Linked DNA regions of Homo sapiens. The protein of the gene in region 1 interacts with the protein of each later gene in a biochemical or structural test. Each region holds a gene or a part of one and is shown on either strand. Other genes may lie near its edges.

Evidence for each region. The genes of interacting proteins can lie anywhere in the genome.
Region 2: of the proteins of MMP13 (region 1) and BCAN, one has a biochemical effect on the other in vitro, tested with the Homo sapiens proteins (one study listed by BioGRID).

Annotation. Positions count from the first base shown.
Region 1 is NC_000011.10:102,952,696-102,959,729, reverse strand, and holds the start of MMP13 (collagenase 3 preproprotein), read left to right. Parts: upstream 1-3,997; 5' UTR 3,998-4,024; coding exon 4,025-4,144; intron 4,145-4,236; coding exon 4,237-4,478; intron 4,479-5,123; coding exon 5,124-5,272; intron 5,273-5,448; coding exon 5,449-5,574; intron 5,575-7,034. UniProt on the Homo sapiens protein: Plays a role in the degradation of extracellular matrix proteins including fibrillar collagen, fibronectin, TNC and ACAN.
Region 2 is NC_000001.11:156,652,117-156,659,116, forward strand, and holds part of BCAN (brevican core protein isoform 1 precursor), read left to right. Parts: intron 1-131; coding exon 132-776; coding exon of another isoform or gene 777-850; exon of another isoform or gene 851-1,356; intron 1,357-4,165; coding exon 4,166-4,273; intron 4,274-4,821; coding exon 4,822-4,980; intron 4,981-5,558; coding exon 5,559-5,641; intron 5,642-6,010; coding exon 6,011-6,155; intron 6,156-6,426; coding exon 6,427-6,617; intron 6,618-6,910; coding exon 6,911-7,000. UniProt on the Homo sapiens protein: May play a role in the terminally differentiating and the adult nervous system during postnatal development. Could stabilize interactions between hyaluronan (HA) and brain proteoglycans.

The sequences.
Region 1 (7,034 bases):
CACACACATACTATATATATGTGTATGTAGTGTGTGTGTGTGTGTGTATGGAGGCAGATTATCTCAAAAATCTTGAGATGTTACATAATTTTTTTCTTCTGAGAAAAGTTTTTATTTCCCAAACATTATGTAATAACATTACATTCTGTTTTTGTGTATTGCTTTTTATCAGATAATCTGCTTTTTAAAAAATATGTAATGGCTTCCACTTTAGTGAATTAAGGTAACAAGGTGAGACTAAGTTGTTTAAAAATAGACCTTTGCCTCATTGTTTAAACATTAGGAATCTTTAAATGTAATAAAATTGCTTGTTGTTAAAACCACTAAAGCATTTCTCCATTTTCCTAACTTGTTTTTATTTCTATTATTCACTACCAAGCAATCTAGATTTTTCCTTTTTCAAAGACATTTGGGAAGGGTTGGGCTAGAATGTGTGTTCTATTCCCAGTTGTTTTCTCTTAGAGTATTTGGTTAAATCTGGCCAAGGTGGACATTCAGTAACCACTCTTTTTCAACCAAACACACAAAAAAATAAAATTCTTTAGGAGGGGAGCCCAGGAAATTAGGACTTGACTTTCAGATGTTATACTCCAGTAAGAACCAAAAATAATTTATTTTACTTCTTGTAAATTCTTTTAGTAACTTTTGTGGATCAACCCAGTATGAGTATGGCATCTCTGAAGAGCATATCATTCAAATGTTAAAAGTAAATGACCTCCTAAGTTACTCAACCTTTGCTTTGTAGCCACAGCATGTAAAATGAGCTCTTCTTTGTTTTGTTCCACACCTGTGGATGATGCCATGACTGCACAAAAGTAGTGTTTAAATTCAAATTTAGAAGAAATCTAGCTTTCCTTTTTTTTTTTTTTTAATGGCGCCTCCCTGTCTGCCCTAGGCTGTCCTCAAACTTCACCCCTGGGCTCAAGCAATCCTCCAACCTCAGCCTCCTGAGTAGCTGGGACTATAGACATGCCCTATGCCCAGCTAGTTCTCCTTTTTAAGACCATGTAAGCCCAGCTCATGAGGTTATGAAAAAAAAAGAGAAATCGGAAGGTAGAACTAAGCAACCATCAGAGAGTGTTTACAAAAAATTATTACTTCGTGCACTTGCAGAGTCAAATCACTTACATTTTAGAAAAATAAACACACCGCTAAGTGTCATCGACAATGAGTTTTTACTATACTCTAAACTGAAGCCAAAATCTTGATCTTAATCGTTCTTTTACTTAAAGATTTTTCATAATTTTAATCTAACTCAAATGGCCAATTGTTCATGTTATTCCTAGTCTGGGACCCCTCTGTGATTTAGTATCTGGCTGTTCATAGACATTTTTCGTTCCTGTTTGGGTGACGTTTTGAACTTGAAAACTGATGATGACCTATGTTTTAAAAAGTCCCATATTGCTAATGTCTGAATCAGCAGTAAATACATAATTCTAATTTAGTCCAGTTTTGTTTGTTCATTCTACAGGTTTTCAAATTTCCCAGTGATTTGGTAGACTTGTTAGAACCATTTTTAAATACCAGCTCAGCCCTATTGTGTTAAAGATGACATCTGAAACCACAAATCATTTCACAGTGGTAACCAGAAGGCTTGACTTTAACAGTTAACAACCTGATATAAGGACTTGCGTTGACAAGCAGTTTGCCAACACATTATGATGTGATGACACATCCCTATCACCATCTAAAAACACTTTTCCCTGAACAATATTCTATAAACGAGCAGTCTGATTATTTTCTTAATGAATTAATGTATTTTAATCTTTGGAGGAATTTTTATTTATTTCTACTTAAGAAAACTACAGAACATATAATAATATGTTCTCATTAACCTTTCTGTGTTTTTTCTTTTGCGCTGATTATGTTCTTAAATGGAATGAGAAACTAGTAAAATACTAAAGTTGTTTGATAATAAACTTTATTTTTAAAGTTGAAAAATAGTGGCATGTATTTATTTTCATTTGTTATTAAAAATGTTTTTTTTAATGGGGGAGGTAATATTGTAATGATCCTCAGAAAAAGGCCCTCATTTTAGCCTTCATTTCATTTCCATAGACACTAGCATGGTATCCTATATGGTTGATGCTCAATTAATATATTCATTAAATTGATAGATAAAAAAGCTTCTTTTCTTCTAGTTTGAAGTAGTAACATTTCTACAAATATGTGAAAATCTATAAGAACAGTTAGCCTATTTGATTCTTTTTCTCCACTTTCAAATGTTTAATAAAATGTTATTTGTTTTCCAGCTTCTTAAGCACTTCTTATCTAATGAGATTTTAATATATTATGAAAATTTATTTGTAAAAACAAATGCTTTCTAATAAACTAACTTTTATAAGCTTAGTCGATGAATCAAACTTTTTTGGATAATTTTTCACTTAATCTCAAAATTAAATATTATGATACATGGAAGCAACTTAAAATAAATTATTGCTTTGCATTCCTGATTGAGCACCAATCTAATCTTGAACTCACTGGAAACAATCTATTTGAAAGGGTATATTTGGCTGTATTTTGTTTGGATAAAGGCATATAGTAAATTTCCCTCAAATGATCACATACATGTTGTAGGCTTTTCTGATTTTTCTCTAAGGCACTGGCTACTCTAGATTATAGGATTTTACTCATATGTTAGGATACCCATTTCGTACTCACCCTAAAGCTGTATTCATGCTCCTTCTCTTTGTCTTACTATGTTCCTGACCTGAGCAGCATTTTCTTTCTGACTCTTAGTCACTCAAATTAACCTGCATTTCCAATCATTTATTTAAAGAAGTCCAATAAATCCAAAGATCATGGCCTATATTGCTCTACCCATTTACTTCTGCAGGGGACCAAAGATGGCACTTTGATTTCACGGTACTGAATGTGTGATGTTCTGAAAGGAATAATAGGGTAGAGGCCCCTAGGACTATTTTCCTGATGGTTGGACCAAGATTACTTCTATTATTCAAACTTAAAAATTGAGAAACTTGAAATTGGCCTACTGCAGCCCTAGTTTTCTTGGGCACTCCCTGAGGTGTAGGAACCAAACAGCTCAGCTTTTAAGAAAATATCTGAGAATGGAAAGGGTGGAGGTCATAATTAGACAGGGACGGTGGTCAAGAACATTGAGTTTTGAGTTATTGGCCTAGGTTCAAATCCTGGTATCATTTATAAACTATATGACCGTATACAAGTATTTAACTTCTCAGTGTATCAGATTATTCATATGTAAAATGGAAAACAAGCTTTCTGACAGCACCTATGTGGCTGTTGTAAGGATTAAATGAGATAATGCCTTTTAAACCTAGAATGCAGTAATCCCTGTTTGTGCTAGCCATTACAGTTGTTCCGTTCCAATGTAATTCTTCTACCTCTGTCTGAATCTGTAGGGAATTTATGCAGGACTCCATATTTGTCGAGAGGTCATGCCAGTGTGTTTAAATTCCAACCATGGGGCTCAATCCTGCGGTTGTGCCGTAGCACCTCCAAGTCATCAAGCTTGGTTTTGGTCCAATATCGTGAACTTCAGGTAGACACAAGACATCTCTCTGTAGTTATTCTAGAGAAAATGCAGTTTATAATTTACCAGGCAGTAGTAAACATTCTAGAATCAGTACTAAGTTTCTCTTTATGGAAGTAAACATGCCATCTTGATACACTTATTATTCGAAGAAGCAAAAGTAGATACGTTCTTACAGAAGGCAAAAAAAAAAAAATTTTGCTAAGTGAAGTAAAAAATGTACTACTCTCTGCTTCTTCCCACAGTATCCATAAATATGCTGAGGCCGTTTATTTTGCCAGATGGGTTTTGAGACCCTGCTGAAACAAGAGATGCTCTCATTTATATTTCCCTCAAATTCTACCACAAACCACACTCGGGAGGGAAAAGAAAAAGTCGCCACGTAAGCATGTTTACCTTCAAGTGACTGGGAAGTGGAAACCTATCCATAAGTGATGACTCACCATTGCAGGCCTATAAAAGTAAAGGTAATCTCTGCGGAAAGACAACAGTCCCCAGGCATCACCATTCAAGATGCATCCAGGGGTCCTGGCTGCCTTCCTCTTCTTGAGCTGGACTCATTGTCGGGCCCTGCCCCTTCCCAGTGGTGGTGATGAAGATGATTTGTCTGAGGAAGACCTCCAGTTTGCAGAGGTAGAGTATCTTGCCAATCCTGATGATGCGGTTGGTACATCTCAGAAATGTCCTTCTCTTTTAAACGCAGTTCATTTTGGTGTCTTTTCTAGCGCTACCTGAGATCATACTACCATCCTACAAATCTCGCGGGAATCCTGAAGGAGAATGCAGCAAGCTCCATGACTGAGAGGCTCCGAGAAATGCAGTCTTTCTTCGGCTTAGAGGTGACTGGCAAACTTGACGATAACACCTTAGATGTCATGAAAAAGCCAAGATGCGGGGTTCCTGATGTGGGTGAATACAATGTTTTCCCTCGAACTCTTAAATGGTCCAAAATGAATTTAACCTACAGGTAAATCATAGGCTATCTTTCTTTCATATTTGTTAGCCTTTTCTTGTAGTATTAAATGTCTAATATTAAGTAGGCCTTATTATTTAATTGGCAGTTAAATTCCAGAATAGCTTTAATATGGTTGCCGAGAATACCTCATAACATCTATTATTGTTACATTAACTCAGCATTATTTTTTAGTGGGCATCTCAAAGTATTTCTTTTAGAGATGAAATCAAAAGAGAAATAAAAGTAGGTTAAAGAAAATTTGCAAACATAGTACATTAGGTGTATTTATTACAACAGTGCTCAAGATGAAGAGTTCCACTCTTTCTAGAAACTTTACAGAGCTATTTCATTTATTTGAGCTTTATCAATGTAATCTAAACTTTTAGCATGCAAAATAAATTATATTAAACATTGGAATATTTTAAATTTAAGATGCCACATGGTCAGATATTTGGAGATACTCAAATGTGGCTGAATTTTTGACTTTTTATTCTTGTATGGCATCATAATTAATACATTATTTGAAACAATAAACCTCTAGTAGAACTTTCAAAGAAATTATTGCATTTTGAATTGAAAAGCAATATACCAAGAAAATGTATTCTAAAATAGCTGTCACTTTCCAAAAAGTTCATTGAAACTTTCTCTGTTAAATAGAATTGTGAATTACACCCCTGATATGACTCATTCTGAAGTCGAAAAGGCATTCAAAAAAGCCTTCAAAGTTTGGTCCGATGTAACTCCTCTGAATTTTACCAGACTTCACGATGGCATTGCTGACATCATGATCTCTTTTGGAATTAAGGGTAATGATGCACATTTATTTTACAAACATTTTTATATTCTAATTCTTGGTTCCATTTTAAAATTATTTATTTCAGTCATTCATTACTTTTTAAAGAATTCAACACTAATTTACCAAACACCTGTGCTAAGTACTCCTGGATGTGATAAGACTCCTAACCCTTGCTTTTGTGTGTAGAGCATGGCGACTTCTACCCATTTGATGGGCCCTCTGGCCTGCTGGCTCATGCTTTTCCTCCTGGGCCAAATTATGGAGGAGATGCCCATTTTGATGATGATGAAACCTGGACAAGTAGTTCCAAAGGTAATGTTTCTTATAAAGATATCATTTATGTGTTATTAGATTAGACAGTGAACACACTAGTATGAAGTTAAAACACATAAAAGTTAAATATATTTGGTATTTGACTATATTTTCTTAAATAAAGTTTATCTTAGATGTATTAGTGTCTCTACAAGTGACATTTCTACAAATTGATATCAACATTAAAAAATGAACAAAATCTACTTAATCTGTCACTGTGGCTTGAGGGATACTAATGAACTTTGAAGTAGGACCAAAATGTTTATGTCTGTCAGCCAACATGTTATTACTGCAAATTACCTTTTGGCATGTTGAGGAAGTACAGTTTATTAGAAATATCTAACTAAAAACTACCAGGGCTGGATCTATGGGTCATACATGAATTAGATGTGAATTGAAATAGTTTTTTGCTTGGTAGAAATATGTTCAATCAAATTTCTGTTTCCCATTATATGAGTTGCTTGATTCAGTCTTGTCTATATATTGTAAACACTATTCTTAAAAACCTAGACAGACTCTTACTCCAAACAGCATGAAACAGACAAGATGATGGTTGTATTTACAAGAGCAAAATGAAACTGAATGTTGAATGAGATCAGTTAGTAGTTAAATCTTCAAGTCTCAAAATAATTGGGAATGTTAACTTAGGAAGAAAAGCCATAGATTGTTCTAACTAGGACTTAGTTATGACAAGTAGATGTTGTCTTCATAGACAGCTGAGTTTTATTTTTCATTTAAATAAAAAAGATTATTTCTCCAAAGAATAAAACTGGGCCTTACATGATCAGTGTCTCAAATCTAATACCTCCAATCTGTCTATGGAGGGAAAAGTGAAAATTTACATATTTATGTTCTGGGTATTTCACAGGTAAGAATGGTTTCAGGAAGAAGAAATAATATCCAGCATTGTTAAGGTAGAATCACAGTAAGCCTCAAATTTAGGTTCCTTTATAAATTCTGGGTTTGAAATATTTAATTGAAGTGAATAAAAACATCCACAAACAAGTCTGGATTCATTTTTCAGTGGAAGGCCAAGAGGGGTATCCATTACTAGTCATTCAGTGAAGAATTAGTTAACACTCAGATTATGTGACCTCTAATTGCTCTCATGGTCTGCAAGGTTTGCTAGGATGGTTCATTTTCTTCATGCACAGGCTACAATAGCAGAGGGTATTTAAGGTCAAATGGAATCCACTGGCTCTAGTTTTCAGGTAATCTAAGCACAGGTAACAACAATCCTATTGCCTTGCACTTCTTATTTTTCTTTTAGTTTTTTATTTTCTTTTTTCCAGTTTGAAATACCTGCATTAGGAGGCTCAAAATTGGCAGACAGAATGCTTAGAGGGAACAATGTAAATACAGTGACATAGTAGTCTTCTAGAGTAGAGAAAAGATGGCTAATCATGTCTAGAGTTTCTGTTTCTCCAGAACCCAGAGTCTAGAGACATTCTGGAAAAAAT
Region 2 (7,000 bases), on another chromosome or scaffold:
TCCTCAGGGCGGTCTCTTCCCTATTCCCCAGGGCTCACCCTCCTGAGCCCTACTTTTCTCCCCTTCCCTTTTTCCTTTCGGTCCTTGGACAGACGCTGTCCCTGGTGCTGAACCGTTTGTGCTTTGCCTAGAATTTGAAACACAATCCATGGTACCGCCCACGGGGTTCTCAGAAGAGGAAGGTAAGGCATTGGAGGAAGAAGAGAAATATGAAGATGAAGAAGAGAAAGAGGAGGAAGAAGAAGAGGAGGAGGTGGAGGATGAGGCTCTGTGGGCATGGCCCAGCGAGCTCAGCAGCCCGGGCCCTGAGGCCTCTCTCCCCACTGAGCCAGCAGCCCAGGAGGAGTCACTCTCCCAGGCGCCAGCAAGGGCAGTCCTGCAGCCTGGTGCATCACCACTTCCTGATGGAGAGTCAGAAGCTTCCAGGCCTCCAAGGGTCCATGGACCACCTACTGAGACTCTGCCCACTCCCAGGGAGAGGAACCTAGCATCCCCATCACCTTCCACTCTGGTTGAGGCAAGAGAGGTGGGGGAGGCAACTGGTGGTCCTGAGCTATCTGGGGTCCCTCGAGGAGAGAGCGAGGAGACAGGAAGCTCCGAGGGTGCCCCTTCCCTGCTTCCAGCCACACGGGCCCCTGAGGGTACCAGGGAGCTGGAGGCCCCCTCTGAAGATAATTCTGGAAGAACTGCCCCAGCAGGGACCTCAGTGCAGGCCCAGCCAGTGCTGCCCACTGACAGCGCCAGCCGAGGTGGAGTGGCCGTGGTCCCCGCATCAGGTAATTCTGCCCAAGGCTCAACTGCCCTCTCTATCCTACTCCTTTTCTTCCCCCTGCAGCTCTGGGTCACCTGACCTGTAGTCCTTTAACCCACCATCATCCCAAACTCTCCTGTCCTTTGCCTTCATTCTCTTACCCACCTCTACCTATGGGTCTCCAATCTCGGATATCCACCTTGTGGGTATCTCAGCTCTCCGCGTCTTTACCCTGTGATCCCAGCCCCGCCACTGACCATCTGTGACCCTTCCCTGCCATTGGGCCCTCCACCTGTGGCTCACATCTCGCCAGCCCCACAGAGCATCCTCAGGCCTCTCCAAGGGTCCTCATCACCTATTGCAGCCTTCAGGGCTCGGCCTATTTTCCACTACTCCCTTCATCCGCCTGTGTGCCGTCCCCTTTAGCTGCCTCCTATTGATCTCAGGGAAGCCTGGGAGTCCCTTCTCACCCCTCAACCTCCGGAGTCCAGGAGAACCCGTACCCCCACAGAGCCTTAAGCAACTACTTCTGTGAAGTATTTTTTGACTGTTTCATGGAAAACAAGCCTTGGAAATAAATCTCTATTAAACCGCTTTGTAACCAAGCTCTGGTACCCTCTGTCTCCATCTCCTGCTGTCCACCTCTCTCATTCCATGGGTCTGTGTCATGGGGAGCACTTGGATGCTTCTTCTCTGGCTCCATGTCTCTCCCTGTCTCTGTGTGTGTCTTGGCCTCTCTTCCTTTTTCATTTTCGGCTTCTCCCCTTGTCTGTCCTGGCAGTCTAACAGCCCCTCATTGTTCCCCCAGCCTCTCCTTCTCAGGCCTGTCTACACTTTCCTTCCTGGCTGCTAAGATCCCAAAATTTGACTGTACACATTACCCCTGGAGAAGTCATCATCCATAGTCTGAGGCAGTGCTGGGAGTTGTAGTCCCTCACTCCTGATGAGGAGAAACCCCTGCAGCCCGGAGTGCATGTGTTGTGCATTTATATTCACTTCCAATCCATCTTGGTGGTGCCAAGGGTCATAGTAACTGAGGGAACTGAGGGTCTCTCAGCATAGAGGCAGTTCCCTGGCATTCAGTTGCCCTCACCCCCATCCCCTAGCCCTGCATCTCAGCAGGGGGTGGTATCTAACTCTCATCCCACTACCTACAACTTCCGTCTTCTCCACTAACTCCTGCACTAATGATCATTCCCTACTCTCCAGAAGGAATGGCTTCACCCTCCCCAGACCCAAAGGGTCTCAAAGTACCTAATGCTGGAGAAGACACTGATCAAAAGCAAGTGATGGAGAGTGTGAAGGAAGGAATCAGGTTCTGGGGTCTGAGAGAAGCCCTCTCTACTCAGGAAGGCTAAGATTCCCAGTGGAGGTTCCTGGAGAAGGCTGGGATTCCCTTAGCCCTAGGACCCCCATGTTAGATGGATCACATCCTGAGTCCCACCCAGGCTTACCCATGTCAACTGTTAGGTCCCTGCACAACTGGCCTTGGAGTTCAGCCCTGTGGGGGATAGGGAGGGGGTTTGGTGGGAAGAGGAGCACAATTGGAGGTATCTACAGTGTCTTAGTTTCCCCACCGGGAGGGTAAGTGAGAGGTCTCCTTGGCTGCTGTTTCAATGGAAAGAAAGGGAAAACTTTCTGGTTGTGTAGAATAGTTGTCCCCAAAAAGGGAGAGGGAAAATGACAAGAAGAAGAGTTCTTCACCCGACTCTGCCTGCGCTGGGTTCAGGTTCTGTAGCCCACAGCCAGGGGGAGGGGCCTATGGCTTGGGTAGGGGACCAAAGACCAAGTTTGAGAGCCTCTGTCCCCCAGGGTTGGAGGGTTGAATGGGAAGGAGCAGAAAGGACAACAGGAGGGACAGGAAAGTGTGAGGAGTGGGAGGGGAGTTCAGAATTCTACCCTCTGTGGGGCCTGGTGCTTAATGGGTTAAATGAAATACCTCTTCCTCTGGGGTTGGGAGGTGGGCAGCACCACAAGCTGGGAAGAAACTATTGGCAGGAGGGAAGATGACAGAAGGAGTGCTGCTGGAAAAGCTGATTCATTTCACCCAAAACAGCTAGGTCATCCCAGCAAAATTCTTTGAATCCACTCCAGCTTCTCCTCTCTCCACCCCTACTGATTCCCACCAGGCAGTGGGACCTGTGGCCAGGCCAGCGGGAAGCACTGTGGACCTTGGCCATGGCTTCTAGAGGTGGATGGTAAAGTCTGAAGGGTTCTGCCCTGGAGTGGTTTTGCCTCTCATGGCTGAGGGCCTTGACCTTACCATGGCTGAGGGCCATGACCTACACAGTTGGTCTGTGGAGCCATCTTCCTTTGGGTCATCTGAACCAGAAAGGATTGGAAACTGACAGCTCCTGTAGCACCCAAGCACATCCTAAGGACAGCCACCTCCTACCCCAGGATACAGAGAGAAAAAGTCCAGTAAAGCAGATGGCCTAGCCAGATGGAGCTAGATCCAGGCAACAGATTGCAGACCTTCAGGGCAGTGTGTTAGTCTAAGAGGACTGCCTGGAGGAGAGGGAGCCAGAAGGAGGGATTGAGATGGATTCTAGGTTGGAGAACCTGCAGAAGGCCCAAAGTGGAGTTGGGAGAGGGAGCCTGGTAAGTGGAAGAGTCTGTGGATATAAGAAGGGGAAGTGAGAGGTTGGGTGATATTGAGAGAAAGCTGCATGTGTGAGGCCAGTCAGCACTGCAGGACAATGGGAGCTGCTGCGACTTAGTTCCTAAGCTGGGGGAGAAGGGGCAGGGCCTAGAGTGAGGAAAGTGGGCTGGATCTCCACTAACCACTTCTGGGACTGGCTGACTGCCCAGTGGACAGCAGGAGGAATGGTTAGTATTCACCTGGACCACACCAATATCAGGTCTCAGGAGCAGTCAAGGGATACCACCCTCCACTGTTGCTGCGGTAATCCTTCTGTCCCCTCCTTCACTTCCATTCATTCCACCTGGACTATACAGAACTGTGCTGGGACCTGGCACAAAGACAAGGGGGTGTGGCACTAAACTCCAAGCCTAGAGAAGGAAAATGACCTGCCCAATATCACACAGAAGCCAGATAAGAGTTTAGAGCTATAACTTTCTGTGCCCAGTATCTTTCTCCATTGTGGGGCTGGGTTCTCAGGGCTCTCCTAGCCTCTTCTCCCCAGCCCCTTTTGGGCTGGGCTCACACTGGTGGCCATAACAATGGAAGGCTGAGCCAATGCTGAAGTCGGGAGCGGGAAGAGGAAAGAAACCCAGAACTCAGGGCTGGGTTGTGACCAGAGACAGGCTCTAGGGAGAACTTTTAGGGTGCTGTTATAGCTTCCAGGACAGAGAGACCAGGGCTGGGGGACCCTCTGCACCCTCTCCTGGAGGGCTCAGGCTGCAGAGTGCGGCTGCCTCGCTCCCCCCGCCTCACTTCTTTCCCCCTCTCAGGTGACTGTGTCCCCAGCCCCTGCCACAATGGTGGGACATGCTTGGAGGAGGAGGAAGGGGTCCGCTGCCTATGTCTGCCTGGCTATGGGGGGGACCTGTGCGATGTTGGTGAGTGTTGAGGGACGGGGGGCAGGTTTGAAGCCTGGACCCTGCCACAACGTGCTACTTCTGGAGGGGGGAGGGAGAACATTGGTTTTGGCCTTGTCATTAATGAGTCCCTGTTTTAGGCAAGTTGCATAACTTCTTTGAGTCCTACCCTCAATTTTCTTATCTAAGTGAAACCACAATGCCTCTCATAGGGGGTCCATTTGAGACCAGTGCAAAGCATACTCCTGGCATTTAATCGGTGGTCAATACATGACAGGCTCCATTCTCCTGGAGAGGAGAGCCACTGCTCGTTAGGATGGAGACCCAGGCCGGAACTCCATCCCTCACCCTGGTTCCTGTCTCTTAGAAAAGGCACCAGCGCCCCTGCCCAAGAGCCCCTCCAGGCTCCTGCTACCCCCTCATTCTCTACTAGCTCTTTTGCACCGCCCTCCTGTCCCCCTTAGTCCCGCCCCTCTCGGCCTGCGGTAGTGGAAGGAGACCAGCCCCTTCCAGGGGACCTGGCCCTCTGGGTTTTGGGGCCCTAAGATGCCCGCCCTTATGTGCCGCAGGCCTCCGCTTCTGCAACCCCGGCTGGGACGCCTTCCAGGGCGCCTGCTACAAGCACTTTTCCACACGAAGGAGCTGGGAGGAGGCAGAGACCCAGTGCCGGATGTACGGCGCGCATCTGGCCAGCATCAGCACACCCGAGGAACAGGACTTCATCAACAGTGGGCTGGGAGACAGGGCGGGAGGGGCCCCTGCCATATGCTCTCACTCTCTCTCACTCGCCTAACCGCCTTCCTCATTAACCCATGCACTTATTCCTTGGTTTTCTCAAGCGTGCATTCCCTCACTCATTCGTTCACTCCCCTTCTCATTCTCTCTCCCTTCCCACCCTACGCTTAGGCAGTGGCCTTCGGGAACGGAGAGTGGAGGTTCGCGCAGTAGAGTGCGCCTGTGTGGGCCGGGCCGCCGTGCAGGGGGCCGCCTCCAATCCCTCCAACCTCCCTGCTCTCCGACCTCCGTCGGCCTCCTCCAACTCCAACTCCAATCTTGTTGAAAGTTTTGACTCTTTTTCCAAAACTCCCCTTTTCTAGCCTGGGTTGATATCTTCCTTATTCTCCCACCCCCATTCCCCTGCTTTCCATCTGGCCCTTGAGCAGAGGCTGGGGTAGAAGAACCCGACAAGGGCGGGTGCTGGATCGCGGGGAAGGGTTTCCAAGGCAGTCACCGCAGACCGCCCGGGAGCGGGGAACGGCCGCCATCTGCTGGCGGCTGCGCTCACTGCACGCCTTCGTCTCCCTAGACCGGTACCGGGAGTACCAGTGGATCGGACTCAACGACAGGACCATCGAAGGCGACTTCTTGTGGTCGGATGGCGTCCCCCTGGTGAGAGGCCCCAGTCGAACCCCGCCGTCTAGCTCACTTCCTCTAAGCACTTCTGTTCCCTACCACCCCCACCCCTCCCGACCCTGTCCCCTTCTTTTTCCGGCCTCCTTCCCTTTCTCGTGCCCTGTGCCTCTTCTCCCTGGGCTCTCCTCCCTTCGTTGTGTCCTCTTTCTTCCCTTCTGGCTCCCATTCTCCCTCCCCTAAAGTCCCTGCCCTCTCCTTTCCCCTTCCCCGGGAGATCCCCTACCCCCTAGCCCTAACCTTCCCTCTCCTGGGGCCCCGCTCACCAGCCCTCCTCCCCAGATCCTCTAGGCCCTCTCCCGGTGCTCCTGGTGTAGGAGCTCCTCACCACCTCCTCCGTTCCCCCAGCTCTATGAGAACTGGAACCCTGGGCAGCCTGACAGCTACTTCCTGTCTGGAGAGAACTGCGTGGTCATGGTGTGGCATGATCAGGGACAATGGAGTGACGTGCCCTGCAACTACCACCTGTCCTACACCTGCAAGATGGGGCTGGGTGAGGGCAGGCAAAGGAGGGTCCCAGCAAGGAAGTGGAGGGGTGGGCTAGGGGACCAGAGGGACTGATGTTTGTAGACAGAGAGTGCAAAGCAACATAGAGGAGTCAGAACGTGTTCCAGACCATGGGAGAGCTAACAAGTTACGTGGGTCCACTCGGAATCCCTGATCTTTTTTTGTCATGTTGTGGCCCATTTTTCTCTTCCCCATGGAGATTCTGGGAACTGTCACCCACAGAGCCAGGCTCAGTTCCTAACTGTCTTCCTTTGCAGTGTCCTGTGGGCCGCCACCGGAGCTGCCCCTGGCTCAAGTGTTCGGCCGCCCACGGCTGCGCTATGAGGTGGACACTGTGCTTCGCTACCGGTGCCGGGAAGGACTGGCCCAGCGCAATCTGCCGCTGATCCGATGCCAAGAGAACGGTCGTTGGGAGGCCCCCCAGATCTCCTGTGTGCCCAGAAGACCTGTGAGTGCCAGGAAGAGGCAGGTGGGAGTGGGAGACAGTAGCCAACAGTAGCCTTGGACTCCACTTAAAGTCCTGCCTGTCACTGGCCATGTGACCTTGGAGCCATCACTGCCCCTCTCTGAGGCAAAGGGGAAGAGGTGGGCTGGAGGCTCTGGGGTTCCTTCAGTGCTGATGTCTGATAACATGCAGCCCCATTCTGGGCTCTTACGGGCTGAGCAAGAACATCAGAGGGCAGGCTCTGAGGAGAGGAGAAGGAAGAGCCAGGGTGGAGGGTGAGTGTGTGTCTTCCCCAGGCCCGAGCTCTGCACCCAGAGGAGGACCCAGAAGGACGTCAGGGGAGGCTACTGGGACGCTGGAAGGCGCTGTTGATCCCCCCTTCCAGC